Regions from separate parts of the Homo sapiens genome. Here all the other regions are linked to region 3. The links come from fine-mapping of genetic effects on gene expression. A gene starts in region 3. Each other region holds a variant in brackets. All regions are shown on one strand. Distances are between the middles of the regions.

Evidence for each region. PIP is the estimated chance that this variant, and not a neighbour inherited with it, causes the effect.
Region 1: its variant is the best candidate, but not a certain one, in a credible set for the expression of COL17A1 in whole blood (TOPMed, PIP 0.50).
Region 2: its variant is the best candidate, but not a certain one, in a credible set for the expression of COL17A1 in whole blood (INTERVAL, PIP 0.58).
Region 4: its variant is the best candidate, but not a certain one, in a credible set for the expression of COL17A1 in whole blood (INTERVAL, PIP 0.57).

Annotation. Positions count from the first base shown.
Region 1 is chr10:104,032,916-104,037,949 of GRCh38, reverse strand. COL17A1 (collagen type XVII alpha 1 chain) reads left to right here. Exons shown (of 56, transcript NM_000494.4): 46 at 177-314; 47 at 837-905; 48 at 1,318-1,458; 49 at 2,387-2,476; 50 at 2,577-2,687; 51 at 3,183-3,329; 52 at 3,616-4,005; 53 at 4,575-4,712; 54 at 4,982-5,034. Among named protein-coding and RNA genes, the nearest start is that of MIR936, 13 kb to the left of the region's middle. The variant T/C (reference allele first, on the strand shown) is at 2,202.
Region 2 is chr10:103,986,746-103,991,779 of GRCh38, reverse strand. SLK (STE20 like kinase) reads right to left here. Exons shown (of 19, transcript NM_014720.4): 2 at 941-1,105. Among named protein-coding and RNA genes, the nearest start is that of SLK, 22 kb to the right of the region's middle. The variant G/A (reference allele first, on the strand shown) is at 2,271.
Region 3 is chr10:104,083,925-104,088,958 of GRCh38, reverse strand. COL17A1 (collagen type XVII alpha 1 chain) reads left to right here and starts at 3,079. Exons shown (of 56, transcript NM_000494.4): 1 at 3,079-3,236.
Region 4 is chr10:104,004,457-104,009,490 of GRCh38, reverse strand. SLK (STE20 like kinase) reads right to left here. Exons shown (of 19, transcript NM_014720.4): 10 at 3,800-3,930; 11 at 3,456-3,579; 12 at 1,135-1,314. Among named protein-coding and RNA genes, the nearest start is that of SLK, 40 kb to the right of the region's middle. The variant CAG/G (reference allele first, on the strand shown) is at 2,692.

The DNA.
Region 1 (5,034 bases), 51 kb after region 3:
TCCATCTGTAATTTAGGGGAAGGACAGTGAGGGGAAGTCTAGGCTCCCTCCTGGCCCAGCCTTGGGCCCATGTGTGGGGCGGGGCAGGCATGTTATCATGTGCTTCAGGTCACCTCCGTGGGGAGAACATGTCCTCTTGGGACAGGCTTGACTTTGCTTTGTTCCTTGGTCGGCAGGTGACAGTATTAGATCTTACCTATCCGGAGTTCAGGGTCCCCCAGGCCCACCTGGTCCCCCAGGACCTGTCACCACCATCACAGGCGAGACTTTCGACTACTCAGAGCTGGCAAGCCACGTTGTGAGCTACTTACGGAGTAAGCCCTTCCCCACGCCCTGCACCTGGCACCTTCCTCCTGTGGGTCTGCTTTTGCTCCCAGAGCCTCATCTCCTCGTTTGCTGTTTGCTTTGCCCTTCTCTGGAACATGAGTTTTAATTCCGAATTCATAATAATCGGGCCACTGGGATACAGTGTCAACAAGGGTCTGTCCAGATTCAGGGCGGCCACGCTGGAGAGACACCGAGTGAGCCTTCCGGCAATTGACTAATGTGTTCCTAATTATAGGTTCTTCCCACCTGTGCATGAAGGTTGGCAGCATCTGGCAGGCATTAGGCTAAAGCATGTTCTCAAAAATAAACTTCCTTTCTTACAAAAAAAAAAAAAATCCCAACAACAGTATTTGACTTTGTTATGCTTTCAAAATAGCCTCGTAATACTCCATTCATCCACTTCCCCCAAAGACAAACAGCTCGGTGACCGGGCCTTTCAGATTCTGGAATAGTGAGGGTGTTGCTTCAGTACCTGCTAAGCAGGTAACCTGAGGTTTTCTTCCCGACAGCTTCGGGGTACGGTGTCAGCTTGTTCTCGTCCTCCATCTCTTCTGAAGACATTCTGGCTGTGCTGCAGCGTGAGTCACCTGTGGGGGGATCGAGGGTGGGACTATCTTTGCTTTCTCCTGGCCTCACTCGTCATGCAAACCTTGTCCTCGTCTGAGCCTTGGAAGGGCTGCAAGAGGGAGGCAGAGTCCTTTGGACAAAGAGCCACTTACTGCTCTGATCTGCTTGCTGAGTCAGCAAACCGGCTGGAAAGGGGGCAGGAAATGTCCTCCCAAGCCCCCATGCCAGACAAGCTGGCAGGTGTCCCTTTGGGAACCTGGCAGCTTGCTGGTGTCCCCCCTGAACACCGTGGTCCTGCGGACCCAGAACTCACAAATGTCACGCAGGAGCCAGTTTGTGCAGGGGAGCCCAGGCTGTGGCTGGATCATGGCTGCGACCCCCATGGCCTGGGTGGGTCCTGCTAGTGCATCCTCTCCTCTCCAGGGGATGACGTGCGTCAGTACCTACGTCAGTACTTGATGGGCCCTCGGGGTCCGCCAGGGCCACCAGGAGCCAGTGGAGATGGGTCCCTCCTGTCTTTGGACTATGCAGAGCTGAGTAGTCGCATTCTCAGCTACATGTCGAGTAAGTGTCTGCAGGAGGGGTGGTTGGGAAGGGCCTGGGATGACTGGGATGAGGACTCGCAGCGTGAACTTCCCTGTGATTGCCCCACTGACCCCCACCTGCCAGACTGCACCAACCCCAGCAATGAGCAGTGCTCAGAGCCGTTCAAACCTGTGAGCCTGGAGCAGGTCAAGAAGCATGGCAAGGAAAGCCAAAACGGGGGTCTCAGGCACTGTCTCGTGTGGAGTCTACATACAACTCTCTCTCTCTCACACACACTCCCATACACACACACCCATACTCACACTCCCATACACACACACACTCACTTCCATACACACACACCCATACTCACACTCCCATACACCCATACACACACATATACACACACTCCCATACACACACACTCCCATACACACACACTCCCATACACACTCCCATACACATACTCCCATACACACACTCCTATACACACACTTCCATACTCAGACACACCCATACACACTCACATATGCATACACACACGCATTCCCATAAACACACTCCCATACTCCTGTACTCACACTCCCATACACTCCCATACACACACACTCATACACACTCCCATACACACGCTCCCATACACTCCAGTACTCACGCACACTCCCATACACTCCCATACGCACACTCCGATACACTCCCATACACACACACACTCACTCCCATACACACATACTCATACACACACACACACAGAATGAAGCACACAGGCACACTGGACCTGC[T/C]TCTCCGGCCCCGTGGGCCCCTCCGTTCCTCCTTTGGGCTCCTCCTCTCTGCCTCTCTTCCTGCCACCATCTCTTTTCTTTCTTGGACCCCACTTCTGTCCAAACCTCTTCTGTATCCGACCTCCTCTCTGACAGGTGTTTCCATCTGCCTCCCCCTGCCTGATCTGAATCCATCACCTCCCTAGGTTCTGGGATCAGCATTGGGCTTCCTGGTCCCCCGGGGCCCCCTGGCTTGCCGGGAACCTCCTATGAGGAGCTCCTCTCCTTGCTGCGAGGTAAGGCCCAGCAGGGGACATCTGTCCAACTGGTTGGGGAGGAAGCAGAGTCCCTTGGCCCAGGCCAGGACTGACTCCGTGCCCTCCCTTGGTGTCTCAGGGTCTGAATTCAGAGGCATCGTTGGACCCCCAGGTCCCCCGGGTCCACCAGGGATCCCAGGCAATGTGTGGTCCAGCATCAGCGTGGAGGACCTCTCGTCTTACTTACATAGTAGGGCACTGTGGAGTGGGATGGGGAGGGCAGGGGATGCAGCCGGGCCTTGGGGGCTCCCATGGGCTTTAGCAAGGGCAGTCTAAGTGCTCCTGGAGCCTGTACAGTGCTGGGTGCAGGGCCCTGGAGAGCGCCACATGTGCTGGCAAGGGGCCTTCAGCCGTGGCAGGGACAGAGGTGGGGAGAGATGGCTTTCCCAGGCGCAGCCCGGTGTGTGATTAGGGCCGACCTGGGGCTCCACCTCTCAGTGACTGGAGGGCTGAGTTGAATGAGGCTCAGAATTGGGAGTGGGAGAGCCTGACGGGAACAGCCATTCCTGGATGATGTCAGGAAACAGCAGGCTCTGGCCTCCTGCTTTTCTCTCCTCCCATCACCCGGGAGGCCCAGCCTCATCCCCTCCTTTCAGGTGGGGCCCACAGCGCCCCGAGCACAGGCTGGGAATTCAGCTTCCTCCGCAGCACTACCCCGACCTTTCTTTCTCTTCCTTCTGCCCAGCTGCCGGCTTGTCATTCATCCCAGGCCCTCCAGGACCTCCTGGTCCCCCAGGGCCTCGAGGGCCCCCGGGTGTCTCAGGAGCCCTGGCAACCTATGCAGCTGAAAACAGCGACAGCTTCCGGAGCGAGCTGATCAGCTACCTCACAAGTAGGTGCCCCGACGGTGATGCCCCACCAGGCACCCCGCAGGCCTTGCTTTTCCCTGTAAGTGGGGCAGGGAGGCACTTAAAGGGACAGGAAGGCCACACGAGAGCCACTGGTGGGGTAAGCCCGGTTTCCTTCCACACCAAAATTCTCCCACTCGGGTACAAGAACCCTGAAGTTCACTTCTGGTCTCTCAGGGGCATTGACACCCTGGGAGAGACTCCCTAACTCCCAAGTCTTTCTCTCCACCGAGATCTGAGCTCCCACTCATGCAGCTTCTCACCCTGCAGGTCCTGATGTGCGCAGCTTCATTGTTGGCCCCCCAGGCCCTCCTGGGCCGCAGGGACCCCCTGGGGACAGCCGCCTCCTGTCCACGGATGCCTCCCACAGTCGGGGTAGCAGCTCCTCCTCACACAGCTCATCTGTCAGGCGGGGCAGCTCCTACAGCTCTTCCATGAGCACAGGAGGAGGTGGTGCAGGCTCCCTGGGTGCAGGCGGTGCCTTTGGTGAAGCTGCAGGAGACAGGGGTCCCTATGGCACTGACATCGGCCCAGGCGGAGGCTATGGGGCAGCAGCAGAAGGCGGCATGTATGCTGGCAATGGCGGACTATTGGGAGCTGACTTTGCTGGAGATCTGGATTACAATGAGCTGGCTGTGAGGGTGTCAGAGAGCATGCAGCGTAAGTGGGGACATTTAGGCCTTGGTGCTGGGGGGAAGGAGCGTGGGAGCATCTCCAGACTGGCTTTCTTGTTTGTGGAACCCCCAGGCTGTGAAGACAGAATCAAGCAGGCAGGGGCTGGAGGGGACAGGCAGCCCCAGCCTAGCTCTCAGCCTACTCAGCTTAAGGAGCCCCAGTCCTGGGACCCGAGCTGTGGGGAACAGAGCACGCTGGGGGCTTTGTACTTTGTTTTCCCAACACCTAGCTCGTTCTGGGTCCCAGATGAGTCATATGACCATGCTGGATTTTCTGCTGGGGCCGAGAGAAGGATGTTGGCTAAGAGTCCTTTCCCCGCGCAGCTTAACGGCACAGTTACGCAGTCAACAAGCTTTTGATGCCGGCCCACAGCAGGAAGAGACCTGTGCCAGTCACACAGTGGAATACAAAGGAAGTTGGAGGGCTTCACCCTTGCTGCGGCTTGATCTAGTTCAACTGCTTTGGGAGTTTGACACTCGGAGGGCACTGTGCTCCTGCTGAAGAGGGTACTGGGAGATCCCTGCTTCCTGTGCCCAAGCTCTGGTGTTTTACAGGTCAGGGCCTACTGCAAGGGATGGCCTACACTGTCCAGGGCCCACCAGGCCAGCCTGGGCCACAGGGGCCACCCGGCATCAGCAAGGTCTTCTCTGCCTACAGCAACGTGACTGCGGACCTCATGGACTTCTTCCAAAGTAAGGGCATCCAACTGCTTTCCCAGCACCTGCCTCACTGCATAGGTTCCCACGGGTCTGCTCCAGAGACACCAGTCTCATGAGAAATCTCCAGTTATTAACATTTGAGATGCTCAAAATTAGACAAATTCTATAAATTCTGAACTTTGTTTCCTCTTACACGTCCAAACTCCATCACTATCTCTCTGTGTTACTCTGAACAAATGACTTGATGTCCCAAGCTTCCAGGTGATCAAGACTCTAAGGCCAGTGTTTCCTTGCTTTTGCAGCTTATGGAGCCATTCAAGGACCCCCTGGGCAAAAAGGAGAGATGGGCACTCCA
Region 2 (5,034 bases), 97 kb after region 3:
ATATTTTTAACTAATTAGGTAGCTTCCTGCCTTTTTTCCCTCAGCATAATGCTTTATTTTTTTTTACAAGTGCTTGCCAATTAGAAATTGTTTTCAAATTCATTACATTATTCAGAAAATAATTTGGGAGGTAGATCATTACTCATCCTACAGATGAGTAAACAGACTCATAAAAGTTAACTGACTTATCCAAGTTCCGTAAGTGGCAGCACTGGGATAAAAAAATATAGACCTTTAGGCATCCAGTCAGGTATTCCTTATACTACTTACTCTTCTCTCTCATAAAACTTTGCTTCTTCCTTCAGGAAGAAAGACTGAAGCTGCATTTTAAAAAGTCCTCTTGATTAAACTAATGTTGGTACAGAACAAGTGATTGACAGATTATTATAATGAATATGAAAGTTTTATTTCTATATCTACTTGTACCTTAATATTTTCTGAAAATGAATAAAATTTATACATACAGCTTTAGCCATCACATCATGCACTAAAGTTGAACCTGATAATACGATAAATATTTAACATTTCTAGTATTTTACAGTTTATTACAAGATTTACAAAAAGTTTAGGATAAAAAATTATAAACAATTTCTAAGAGAAACTTTTAAAACTTTTAAATGATTAAATTTAAATTATAAACAAGGACATCTAATTTCATATTTTAGGAAATTTATTATTCTTAACCAAATTTTTCCACCTGGATCCAATGTCAAACAATCATGATGAAACTGTACAATCTGAAACATAAATCTGAACATCTGTTGAAGCTGAGAATAACTTTGTTATTACTCTCTTATCAGCAGATCAACTCTCATTCAAGTGACACAAGTAACTAAATAGAAGAGATAAGACATAAAATAGGTTTTAATAATTCATAAACATCTCTTTAGGACAATTAACTCATTTTGGCTACTCCTTTAGATCAACAGAAAATACTTACCCAAAGATTGTTCTCATAATAGAAGGCATCTAGAAGCTTGACTATATTTGGGTGATCACAAGATGCTAATATGTCAATCTCTACCATGTAATCTTCAAGTTCTTCTTCAGATTTAGTGTCAATCACTTTTGCAGCAGCTAAAACACTGGTCTCTTTATTCTGGGCCTGAAAATGAAAGTATCAGAAGTGTCACATTTCAAATGCATCATTTTCTAATTTTTTATTATTTTAATAGATTTTAAGTTTTAATTCATATTTAATTCATATTTACGTTTAGGCTGTCTTTTAAAAATAGTGTGTCAAGAGAATGAGAAGACAAGCCACAGACTGAGAAAATATTTGCAAGACACATATTTGATAAAGGAAAGTTTTAGGTTCACAGCAAAATTGCGTGGAAAGTACAGAAAGTTCCCTCGTGCTCCATGCATAACCACCCCCCCATCAACACTGCACACCAGAGTGATACATCTGTTGCTATGATGAACCTACATTAACACATCATTATCACCCAAGTCCAAAGTTTACATTACAGTTTGCTCTTGCATCTATGGGTTTCAACAAATGTATAATGACATGTAGCCCTCGTTATAATATCATACAGAATAGTTTCACTGCCCTAAAAATCCTCTGTGCTCTGCCTACTCATCCCCTCCTTCCTCCAACCCCTGGCAACCACTGATCTTTTTACTGCATCCATAGTTTTGCTTTTGCTTTTTCTGGAATGTCATATACTTGGAATCAGAGTATGTATAGACCTTTCTGTTTAGCTTCTTTCACTTAGTAATATGTATTTACAGTTCCTTAATGTTTTCATGGCTTAATAACTCATTTCTTTTTAGCACTGAATAATATTCTATTGTCTAGTTATACCACAGTTTATCCATTGACTTACTTAAGGATATGTTGGTTGTTTCCAAGTTTTGGCAATTATGGATAAAGCTTCTATAAACATGTATGTGCGGGTTTCTGTGTAGACATGTTTTTCAACTCATTTGGGTAATAAACAAGGAGTACAACTGCTGGATCATATCGTAAGAGTATGTTTAGTTTTTTAAGAAACTGCCAAATTGTTGGCCGGGCGCGGTGGCTCACGCCTGTAATCCCAGCACTTTGGGAGGCCGAGGCAGGCAGATCACGAAGTCAGGAGATCGAGACCATCCTGGCTAACATGGTGAAACCCCGTCTCTACTAAAAATACAAAAAATTAGCCAGGCGTGGTGTCGGGCACCTGTAGTCCCAGCTACTCGGGAGGCTGAGGCAGGAGAATGGCATGAACCTGGGAGGTGGAGCTTGCAGTGAGCCGAAATTGCGCCACTGCACTCCAGTCTGG[G/A]TGACAGAGCAAGACTCTGTCTCCAAAAAAAAAAAAAAAAAAAAAGAAACTGCCACACTGTCTTCCAAAATGGCTGAAAGAGTCTGCATACACACCAGCAATGAATGAGTTCCTGTTGCTCCACATCCTCACCAGCATTTGGGGTTGCCAGCAAGCATGGGTTTCACCAGTCTAACAGCTACATAGTAGTACTTGTATCTTTTCAATTTACAATTCCCTGATGACATATGATGTCGAGCATCTTTTCATATACTTATTTGTCAAATCTTTGGTGAGATGTCTGTTCAAATCTTTTGACCATTTTTTAACTGGGCTGTTCATTTTCTAATTGTTAAGTTTTAGGAGTTATTTGCATATTCTGGATAACTTTCCTTTATCAAATATGTGTCTTGCAAATATTTTCTCAGTCTGTGGCTTGTCTTCTCATTCTCTTGACACACTATTTATAAAAGACAGCCTAAACATAAATATGAATTAATGCATGCTATGGCTATGCACTGTGCTAAGGGCTTCATATACATAGGGGACAGCATTTCAAATCACAGCCTCTGGTGGGTCAGACTGCTGGATTTAAATTCTGGTTTTGCCACTTATTAGCTGTGTTGCTTGGGGCAATTTACAAAATCCCTCTTTTAGTCTCCTCATCAGTAAAAATTATCTACATCTCACAAGTTCATGAGAATTAAGATAACATATATCTGCCAAGTAAAAAAAAAAACCACATATAAACATTTAATATACTATCTGGCATATATAGAAGGATTCAAAAATGTTAGCTGTAATTACTATTACTATTTAATCTTCACAACAACCCCATGATATATTATTACCTCTACTTTAAAGGAGGATATAAATGAGCTTTGAGGGGTTAAAAGGCTTTCCCAGGTCATGTAGCTAGTAAGAAGCAGAAACAGAATTTAAATCCAGGTCTGTTTCCAAAGCCCTTTCTGCTGGAGGTTGAAACCCATTTATGCCGGAGGTTGCAAATTTTTGTGTGTGAAATTAACCCATTTATGCTAGAGGTTGCAAATTTTTTTTGTGAAAAATCAGACCTTGGCAATTACCTTGGGCAGTAGGATATAAATAACCCCCACAAGCTTAGCGTTCCGTTAATGGAACACTAGGCATAATCATTACCCGTGAAGGGTGGCAGAATACACCACTTCAAACATGCCACTCTGACATAAGGATCACTTTGAGTTTGAAAGGCACTTGAAAAATAGCAGATGCAAGAAGGGCATTCTAATCTTCCACCTTTTCTTCCTGAAACTAGGAGATGAAAATGTTCCTGTAAAAGACGTCTTCTCTATCCCAGGAGAAAAGAAACATTCTTTGATAGGGAGTCACAGTCAAGAGAATTGTGTACAAACAGACCTTGTTAAATTAAACATCTTCCTTTAGCCTCCCCATATAACATATCTACTTTTCTACAATCGCCTCTCTTCTTTCAACCTAACACAAAAGCATGTAGGTTTTGCCATTTCTCTATGACTTCATTTTCTTTTGAGGGCTCCCATGTCACATAAAACTTATATTAAATGTCTATGCTTTTCTCCTCTACTCTATCTTGTGTCAGTTTAATTCTCGGGCCCAGCAGGGACGCTAAGAGGGTGGAGGCAAAGTTTTGCCTCCTCTATACCCTTTCCAGTCTCCCCATATTTCTATCATTTGGTCATTTTTCCTTGTTCTTAGTACTTTAACTTTCTCGTTTTCCTTCTTTGGTTAACTTCTCACCATCATTTATTATAAATGAAAGGTTTCCAAATATGTAGTAGATACTAGGATCATTTTTAACGTTAGGAATCAGATCTTAAAATGCTAACTAGGTTGTTTTTATAAGACATTTCACTATGATGTATATTAACATCACTTCAGCAAAACTCCACTTATTACATTAAAAACAGATACTAAATTTTTTAAAGTTAATAAATGTTTCAATAAATAAATGTCTAAATCTCACTTTTAAGAATTTATCAGAAGGAGATAATTTCATAAAATAAAATTCATGCACATACAAAAATACTCATCAAAGCACCATTTGCAATAGTGAAAAAGTGAATCAGCCTAAATGTCACTTAACAGGAACCTGCTTAAATCATGCAGTACAGTTCTACAATGAAAAATGACGCAGCCACTAAAATTAATTGACTGATGTCCTGGAGATTTTAAAGATGTATCTTTTATACTTGTGAATGGGCTGGCATGAAGGAAGAAAAATAACTCACACTAGATAACCTCTAAAATTCCTCACAGTAACAAATTCTGTCATATATTGATTATACCAACAATGATATCATTTGGTTTAATATAAATAATAAAAGTTACATTAAAAGAATAGTGCCTCAAATTATTGCTTGAAAATAACATGATTACTCATCAGGATCTAGTTCTAAAAAACTTTAAAAAAACAAAACTGAAATAAATATTTACAAGTGTGTGACACTATTCTCTACACTAATATAACTGGGACATAAAGTATTTTTAAAAAAGAGCTTATCTACCTAATATCTAAAGGCATAAAAACTCTTCACATAGGCCAGGCGTGGTGGCTCATGCCTGTAATCCCAGCACTTTGGGAGGCCAAGGCGGGCGGATCACAAGGTCAGGAGTTCAAGACCAGCCTGGCCAACATGGTGAAACCCCATTCCTACTAAAAATACAAAATTAACCAGGCATGGTGGCGGATGCCTGTAATCCCAACTACTTGGGAGCCTGAGGCAGCAGAATTGCTTGAACCCAGGAGATAGAGGTTGCAGTGAGCCGA
Region 3 (5,034 bases):
TTTTTAGTTGTAATTTGCCCTCAGCCTGATCTGTTCTAATATTGCCTATTTTCTTTCAGTTGAAAGCTATGGGCAGACTTAAATTTTAATAATACACAAGGCAGTGGGAAATGAAGGTCCAAGAGTCAAGTGGAATCTATTAGACTCTGCCACTTATGAGATGGAAGACCCTTGGCCTGTTACTCAGCCTCTCAAACTTTACTTTTCTCAGGTATAAAATGAAGGTAATAATGGTACACACCTCTCGGAGTCGTTGTCGGGATTGTGTTAGAGAATGGATGTAAAAAATCTGGCTTACAGTAGTTCTAGAAAGCATTAGTTGCAGTCGTTCTTCTTTCCTGGGATCAATAATCCGAACACCCACACAGTGCCTGTAGGGAGTTGCTCCTTAATGTCAACTTAACATTTGCCACATAACCCAAAACATGACCCTCCACAGCCTGTGAGGCCCTGTGTGATCTAGTCCTGCCTCCCTTGCCAGCCTCTCGCCCGCTGCCTGCCTCCCTTCACTTGATGCTTTTGAGCAAATTGGCCTCATCACTCTTCCCCCAACTCACCGTGCAGCTTCCACCTGAGAGCCTTCTCAGAGACTCTTGCCCCATCTAGATAGTAGAACACTCTCCACCCTGCCCTTCACCTGTGTGATCTCTTTTCAACCTTCATGTATCACTTATATAGCAGGACTTTTCCTAACACCCCTCTCCAAGATTATGTCTCTTCTTACGCTCTCACAGTAGCCAGTACTCTTTCTTTCTGATCTTGCTCTGTCACCCAGGCTAGAGTGCACTGGCGCCATTATAGCTTACTGTAACCTTGAACTGCTAGGCTCATGCAATCCTCCTTTCTCAACCACCCGAGTAACTGGGACTGCAGGTACATGCCATCATACTCAGCTATTTTTTTTTTTTTAGTAGAGACAAGGTCTTGCTATGCTGCCCAGGCTTGTCTTGAACTCCTGGCCTCAAGTCAGTATGCTTTCTTTATAATAGTTATCATATTCTTGCAGTTGCTCTTATAATATATATATATATATAATCTGCAATTATATATTGTACGTAACTGTTATAGGCTGAATAATGTCCCTCCAAAATTCATATGTGAAGCCCTAGCCATTAGTACCTCAGTGAATTTATTTGAAGATAGGGTCTTTAAAGAAGTAGTTAAATTTAAGTAAAAAAGGAGCCCATCAGGGTGGACTCTAATTCAATCTGACTGTGTCCTTTAAGAAGAGGAGATGAGGACACACAGAGAGAGACATCAGGGATGTGCATGCACAGAGAAAGGCCATGTGAGGATACTGCAAGAAGGCGGCCATCTGCAAGCCAAGGAGAGGGGGGTCTCAGGAGAAATCAAACCTCCTGACACATTGATCTTGAACTTCTGGCCCACAGAACTGTGAAAAAATAAATTTGTGTTGTTTAAGCCACCCAGTCCGTCGTATTTTGTTATGGGAACCCTCACCGACTAATACATTATGTAAGGCCTGTCTTCCTCCATTAGACTGTGAACTCCATAAGCAGAGGGACTATGTTCATATTTCACCACCAAACTCTTAGCACATAGTTTAATGTCTGGCTCCAAGCAGGAGCCAATATATTTTTGTTTAATTCTTGAATTCATGAATAAAGAAATAAATGATGCAGGGGCATGTCTATTTTATGCTGAAAGCTCTGTGTGTTCTGGGTTCTTCAGTGTTCTTCTACTATGAAACTGACGGAAGACATATTGAGTATTTATTTGGGGAAGGCAAGAACATCCTACAAAGCAAGTGTCAAATTCTGCATAATTGAAAGGGTTCTGAAATGCACGACTCCAGTGTGGAATATGGGCAGCTTAGGAGCAAGAGCCCCACAGCTGTTGTTGTGGTCTGCTACCCTTCCATGGGATGCAGTGCCCACAATAGCAAGGTGCAGTTGCACATCGGTGCTATGCTGTAAGGGCCCCACTGCTCCCCTCCAGTATCTTAGGATAATGCCTCAGAACTGGGAATCCCAGTGTGATGCTGGGTCCCAGGAATGTGCTATGGCCTCAAAGGACTGCCTGAGTGAGTTCCAGGTTCAGACTTCCCATTTTACCAACACCAAGTGTCTCAAGCTAGTCTTTAGGCCCCCTGGGAAGCCAGATGCTATCCAGGTATTCATAAGAATTATCCTGATTGATGCAAGTTGACCCTCTAGGGAAATCTAAAGGTCCCCAGGATGTACTTGGAGTTGCAGGACATCTGGGAGCCCACACATGTCTTTAGGTGTATGGAGACTATGCGGTCACCTGATTTGAAGGACAAGAAGGTCCTTATCCCTTCCCAACAGCACCTCTCTCCATTATTAGGTGGCTAAATGCCTAAAATTCCATCACTAACATGTCACTCTTTTAGGTCAGCATCACTATATCTGGTTGCCTCTTTTGTAAAACGAACCCCTACCCCACCAATTGCTCAGTACATTCAGTCATTAGCATATTATGAATTAGTTCACCAACTATTTTCTCCAGATGGGCTTGACCTGGCTTGAGTCACAAGAGGGGAAAGAGGACAAAGACATCTATAGGGGAAACAAGACAAAGGACACAGGACACAGGAACAGAGGACGAAGACATCTATAGGGGAAACAGATCTTGAATATAAATCCTGCCAACTTCAGTTTTTCTAGGGCTCAGGCAGTATGACCACAGGCCATCCATGTGCCTAGACCATGCTCATCCATGAGCCCATCCACGTGCCTAGACTCATGAATCATGCAGTGGGATTCCAGTACCCATGGCACTGAGGAAGGGTACTGCCACAAAGTTGTGGCAGTTCTCCAGCTGTAGAAGGTAGGCAATAAAAAAGCATTTCCTTTATGCTGGTCCTTTGTTTCCTTTTCCCCATGGGCCTTATAAATAGTTAATCTACCTAAGCTGGAAGGAGAAGCTTTCTGCCTCCAGTAAAGTTTGATTCCTGGAGGCAGATTTTTTTTTTAAATCCAGCAAGTGTCAGATAATTGGAAGGGTGGAGTAACGCTGTAAACCATGACACACCTTTGTCAGGACATGTTTGGAAGCAAAGAGTTGAAAGAAACAAGGTGGAGAGAAAGAAAAGTGAACATTTTTGAAAGATCACTCAGCTTTAACACACCTTGGCTGGGTCTGGATAAAAAAAAAGTGAGCACTGCAAATTTCTAGAAGAAAACATCAGGAGAAGAAAGAGAGAGGGGGATTTATTCAAAGTTGTTTCCAATTCCTTCAAAACCTCAAACCAGGTAAGTAAACAGGAAGACTGACCTTTCTCCTTTTCTCTGAGACTTTGATTTAAGGTTTGCCATTTAGAAATTAAATGTTTATTGGAGAAAAGAAGATGAAGTTCTGTAGTTTCTAGCATTCTGGTTAAAGTGATCAATTGGTTATAAAAGATGACTTTGGTGTATGCATTCTGCTTAGGGTAGGTCTTTCAAAGGAAATAAGTGGGGAAAAGGAGAAGGCTGAAGGCTGGTTAAAATATAGCGGGCTTTAGAGGCAAGACCTTTCTGCATTGTTTTCAGCATTGTAAAATGACTTGTGTTGTTTTATTTAGAATATGATACGGGCTTATAATTCCTTCTCTCCCAATCTCAGTTTCCTCTCTCGCTATCTTGCTCTCCTCTTCCCTCTGTCTCTCTCTCCACTGGACGAAGAGAACAACTCAGGGGTGAAGTTAAAGTATAGGTAAGGGGGCCTTCTAGAAACAGTCCCTGTGCTGACTGGGCCTCTCTGATTAAGCCATACATGGTAAACATTGCTGTTTACCATGCTGTAAAATTACCTCTAATCTAAAGAAAAGTAGGATCTTTGAAATGATCTGATTAATTCAGAAATTTTGCAGGATCAAACTTAGAGGAATAAAAAAAGGAAGAAAATTGTTTCCCGTATATATACTCTTACGAGTCAACTTGGGTTTCCTCCTGCCAAAAAAATTCACTTTGAGATGAGAATTACCAGTTTAGATACCTAAGTGGATGACGTTAACTGGTAACTGACAAATTATCACTTTACTTTTTGAAGTGGAGGCAAAACCTCTGGCACATTCCTTCTTTTGAGAAGTAGTTAATCAGTAGTCTAATAGTGGACTTGTAAAACGTAGCAAGATTTTTAAAAGGTATTTATTTGAAAAGCAGAATAGTTTCTTCTTACCTCCATATGTTCTCTCTTAGAGCTAAGGCACAGATCTGTCAGAACTAACCTAAGACAGATGTCTATCCCCACACAGACTCACTCCAGAGATTCAGAGGTGTCCTGCTTTACTCTTAGGCCCTGCAAAACACCCACATGAGTCTGATCAGAGTTTACACAGGAACAATTAAAGTGAACAGCTCTGCTTCAAGCTTGCATAGAAACTTACCAGCCTGGGTAACATGGCAAAACCCTGACTCTACAAAAAATACAAAATTAGCCAAGCATAGTGGTGTGCGTAGTGGTGCACACTCATATTATACTAACCCCATCTCTACTAAAAATACAAAAATACAAAAATTAGCTGGGTGTGGCGGTGCATGCCTGTAACCCCAGCTACTTGTGAGGCTGAGGCAGGAGAATTGCTTGAACCCAGGAGGCAGAGGTTGCAGTGGGCCAAGGTTGTGCCACTGCACTCCCACCTGGGCAACACAGCAAGACTCCGTCTCAAAAAAAAAAAAAAATAGGAAAAAAACTCCTTAGATTGGTGAAACTGACCTGACCTAAGAACTAACCACCTTCTCAGATTATGAAAAACAAAAAGAAGTCTGTGTTTACATTGTTTGTTTCATTTGCCATTATTAACAGTGGCAGGACACAACTGTAAACAAACCAGCATAATCACAAAGCTGGTGCCCTATCCCACCTGCTCCCAGTCATGAAAATCCAGGATACCAAATGTAGCAAGCAGCAAACCCATCTCTGGGGTGTTACAGAGACAAAGCCTCCAAGATATTCAATTCCAGGGCATTGGCTTTCCTGGCATCAAACTGCTGGGCCCTTCTGTGTTATCAGGTCAATAGCCAGTGGATGGTTTTCTAATACTTTGGCAATTTTGTTGTTGTTTTGTTT
Region 4 (5,034 bases), 79 kb after region 3:
CAAATAAAATCACATACCATTTCATTCATCTTTATCTAAAGAAATCATAAAATCACTGTATTTATTAATGTTTGACTCTACCCTTTTTAAAGCAAATCCTTAAGATTCAGCAGTATGACATTCAATTTTCTTCTCAATTTAAATGTTAAAGTCAATGAATCTGGGTATTTGAGATGTGTAACAAAAGTGAAAATGCATTTATTAGTTTGGCTGAGGTTTCTGTTTGTTCCAACCCTAATAAAATTGATCACAATCATTGTCTCTGGTGTCTTTTATATCATGAAAAGGCAAATCGTCTTCCTATACTGAAGATGTTAATAAATTATAAAATTATCTCTGAAAATTACCTACATGTAAAGCTCTTTTAGTTTTAATTTGGGACAAAAAAAGATGCTAATATAATAAGTAAATCTTCCTTCTGAAGCAATGACAATCTTTTATACTGCAAACAGATTCTATAACAATATGAAACAGTTTCAGGAAACAATGAAAAAACTCATTCTCATCAAATGACTTTACAGATATGTTCCACTTCTAGTTCTTCGAAGTACCTCACAATTTGATGAGTTATAGATAGCATGTCAAATTTCAGGTTATTCAGCTTTTGTTTGGCACAATACCCATGAAAGGCAATAAAGCTAATCAACAAACAAAATCGTTAAAAGTATGAATTAAAGATGAAAAATAACTTATAAATAATAAAATGAATCACTGCTGCCACTGGCAAACACAACATAGTAAGTTTTCTAAAAAATACTTTTATATAAGGACTTAAATGTGTTGCATTAAGGACAATGGTAGACCTTAAGATGGATTAAACTCAATTTGAAGACCTGATTCAAGGTTTAGCTGGATATTTAGGGGTAGTCTGTGAACAGGTCATTAAAACCTCTCTTGAGGTGAACTTAAACAGGTCACTAAAACCTCTCTTACTCCAGTTTTCTTGGCAGTAAAATGGGAATAATGATTGACCTTATGACAACTCTATATGACTGTTGAGAAGACCGAATGAAAGAATGAATAGGTGCTATTTAACTCTCAAGTATTATTAGTATTCCTAAATCCTTAGATAGTCTTAAAACAATTTTTTTAAAAAAAAAGCTTTAGTAATTAAAAACAGTAGTTTACACTTACCTCCTTCTTTCGGTTCTTCAGCATATTCTGAAATTTGGACAACTCTTTCTCTTGTTCTCCTTTGATGCGTTTGGCTTCATCTCGCAAGCGATTTGTGTGCTCTTGTTCCAGGCGTTCGATAGTCTGTTTCTGCTGTTTTTCTAGATTCTCAATTTCCTGGTCATATTGTCGCTTTTTACTCTGTAAAACAATATAGCTCAAGATGATAACTTTTCCATCACCCATATTAATACCTTATAGTAAAGATGTTTCCTAAGAGAACATAACTAGTATTTAAATTTAGTAATGTACTATAACCTTCACAATACTGAAAAAGTCAAATGCACTAAAATATGTTATGAAAATTCTCAAAAAAATGAGTTCTTTTTTTCTAACATGGAAATTTTTTTTCTATTTTATTTATTAGAGACAGGGTCTCACTCTGTCACCCAGGCTGGAGTGCAGTTGCACAATCACAGTTCACTGCAGCCTCGGCCTCCTGGGCTCAAACTATCCTCCTGCTTCAGCCTCCCAAGTAGCTGGGACTACAGTGCATGCCACCATGACCAACTTATCTTTTTATTTATTTATTTATTTATTTATTTATTTGGAGAGATAGGGCTATCACTATGTTGCCTAGGCTGGTCTTAAACTTCTGCGCTCAAGCAATCCTCCTGCTTCGGCCTCCCAAAATACTGGTATTACAGGCATGAACCACTGGGCCTGGTCTTTTTTTTTTTCTTTTCTGTTTTTGTTTGTTTTTTCTTTTTGAGACAGGATCTCCCTCTGTCGCCCAGGCTGGAGTGCAGTGGCACAATCTCTGCTCACTACAACCTCCGCCTCCCAGATTCAAATGATTCTCATGCCTCAGCCGCCTGAGTAGCTGGAATTACAGGCATGTGACATCCTGCCTAGCTAATTTTTCTGTATTTTTAGTAGAGACGGGGTTTTACCATGTTTGCCAGGTTGGTCTCGAACTCCTGCCCTCAAGTGATCTGCCCACTTCAGCCTCCCAAAGTGCTAGGATTACAGGAATAAGGCACTGCGCCCGACCCAAAATTTGTTTTCTATTATACTAGTAGAATGTTCAAAGTTTTTAGATTATCCAGAAGAATAGCTAATTGTTGTGAAGTAGTAAGGCAAATCAGAAAAATTTCAATATTTATCCAATAAAATTTTTGATAAATCAAAGAGCTTATTTGAGGTCTACTTTAATAAAATAATATTATTAATAATATCGCCATTATTTAATAATAAGATTGTCATTTTCAGATTCAATCTTCCACATTAAGATTCTTAAAATAAACACCTTATTCTATTGGAACAGATCTTTTGGAATTATAAATCTACTCTTGCAACAAGACTCCTGTTTATATAACACTCAGTAACACTGTTTTTGAATACAGGTATAGTTACTTATTTGTAATGGATGTTTTCTTTTTAAAAAAATTGAAAAGTAAAACATTTTAGAAAGTATGATGGGGGAGAAATACAGATTTTATAAGGTTTTGGAAAACAATATAAGTACTATAAAAATACTCAATGAGAACAAAAGTTCACTATTTTCTTAGGAAATCT[CAG/G]TTATGATCCAACTCATGTAATCAACAATCCACAGTTCACACAAAACAATCTTTATCAATTAAAATTACAAGTCAACACAAGGACTATATTCAAAACATGAGTACTGTAACATTTCAAATGATACTTTTTCTAACCTACATTAAGGCAGATAGTCAACATAAATTACAAAAATTTTATATTACATTACTAATTCCTTTTCCAACTTTGGACACAAGGCAAAAACTGAAGGACTCAGTGACAGCTACCCAGGACTAGTCAGCACTATTTCCTCTAGCAGCAGGAAATAGAGATGTGGAGGCTTAACTGTAGAAGCCAGAGAATAAAGCACATTTTTAAAAAGCCCCTGAGGAGTCCTACTGCTCAGCTAGGTTTGAAGGCAATTGCTCTAAACTGGCTTAAAATCTTGGATTCCAAATCTGAAAGATCGAATTAGAGCACTGAAAAATTACCCAGCAATAGGCAAATCTAGGAACTTTGTTTACTGGCTTCATAAGTTTTCATGAGAGAAAAAACAACCCATCACACCATAAACCAGCTTAAGGTAGACTGGGATAGAAAATCCTTTCAAGAAAAAAGAATAAATCAATAAAAGGCATCCAGAACACCAAAAGGGTAAAAATGCCAGAAATAAATCACAAAGCTAGAGAAATCTGGCAATCAGAGAACAAGTTCTACAACCTTTTTTGTTTGTCTGTTTTTAATGCAGTAAATGTCATTATTAACACAAAATGATATAAAATGGTATAACAATCAGACTTTACCATCATTTCCTGCTCAAAGCGCCGGAAAATTTGTTCTCGTTGTTGCTGTAGTTTGCTATTGAGCTGTTGTTGGGCTCTTTGCTCTTCTTTCTGAAGAAATCTTAATTCCCGAAGTTCCTGACGTCTGATAAAATTTAATGGTAATGATAGAGAAGACAGCAAAAATTACACTTCTGAAATACGTTTTTTTTTAAAGCTTTAAAAATTTTCTTTCGAGTGGAACGGTAGTAAAAGAATAAAAAAAAATTAGCCAATAATTTACCCTTGTTTCTCTATTCTTCTGACTTTTCAGAGACTGAAAAGAAGTCACAAACCAGTTTTAATTACGTTGTTTCTCTACTCACCTAAGAAACCGCAATTCTTCAGTTTTGGAATCACTATCTGTAACTATCTTTGATGTTGTTACACTCACTTCTACACCATCAACAATAAATTTGCGTGTTTTCTTCAATGTTTTCTTTTGTCTTCTTGTTTCCTGAGTGAGATTTTATTTTAGTTAGGCTTTGTACAAGGAATACTGGAGGTAGAAAACATTTTCTTCTTCCTTAAACATTTCTTTCTTTTTTAAAACAAAACAACTGAACAGCCATGCAGACTACACATAGAAAGTATAAATATAAAGCAATAGACTCATCTGTGGAACCAGTTATAACACCTTAAACGTCATCTGACTTACACGTCTTTACAGATGAAATCAAATTTTTTCAAAGTATGCATTTTGATCATCTTCATGTATAGCTTTTATGACACATTATAATTAGGCATAAGTGATGAGCAGTTCACATAGCTAATCAGTAGAACTTTACATGTTATCCTTTTTTTTCATCTTTTCAATTTGTAGTTTCTCAGATACCTCTGCTTTTTCACTGACAAAACAATTAAAAATGAATTTGTGGGGCTCATCTCTTAAAAAAAAACTAAATTGACAGGTCTGAGGGTAGCTGGAAATCTCTTTTTTTTGAAAAAGCTCTCAGGTAATTTTTAAACACTGCCAGCACTGGGGATCAAAATCTACTTAATCAGTAACAATAATATCGACAGCCCCTCCCTCCATCTCAGGGCCAGAGATATATGTATGATTTTAGGGTTACTAGAAAGACAGTGCCTCTGCTGCACCCAAAAGTACCAGATTTGGCTGCTAGCTATGACCTAAAATTCTTTATTAAGACTAAACTCTTCATTCCTCAACTGGTATCCAAAAACATTTAAATGCAAACAGAAATAACAGACATATAAGACTCCTACAAATACATTTTGGTAAACTAAGTGTTCAGGGCAGATACTTACTGGGTGTTGATATGGAAGAAAGGGTTAGAAGGCAGAGGAAGCAAAAATGGAATGTGAAAATGCTAAACTCAAAATGCATCCAAATTTTAAACAGTTTCTCTTTGGCACCTTCCAATCACCTTTCTGCATCCTCTCCTCTTACTGTTCTCTTCTCCAAGCTTCCAGGATCCTCATGCTCTTCTTCCAAAGTCCAGGACTATGGTACCCTACCCAGGATTCCTCTAAAATCTAAAGTTGGCAGACTCCAAAAAATACACCTATCTACACCTTAACCTCCAAACTTCACATTTCT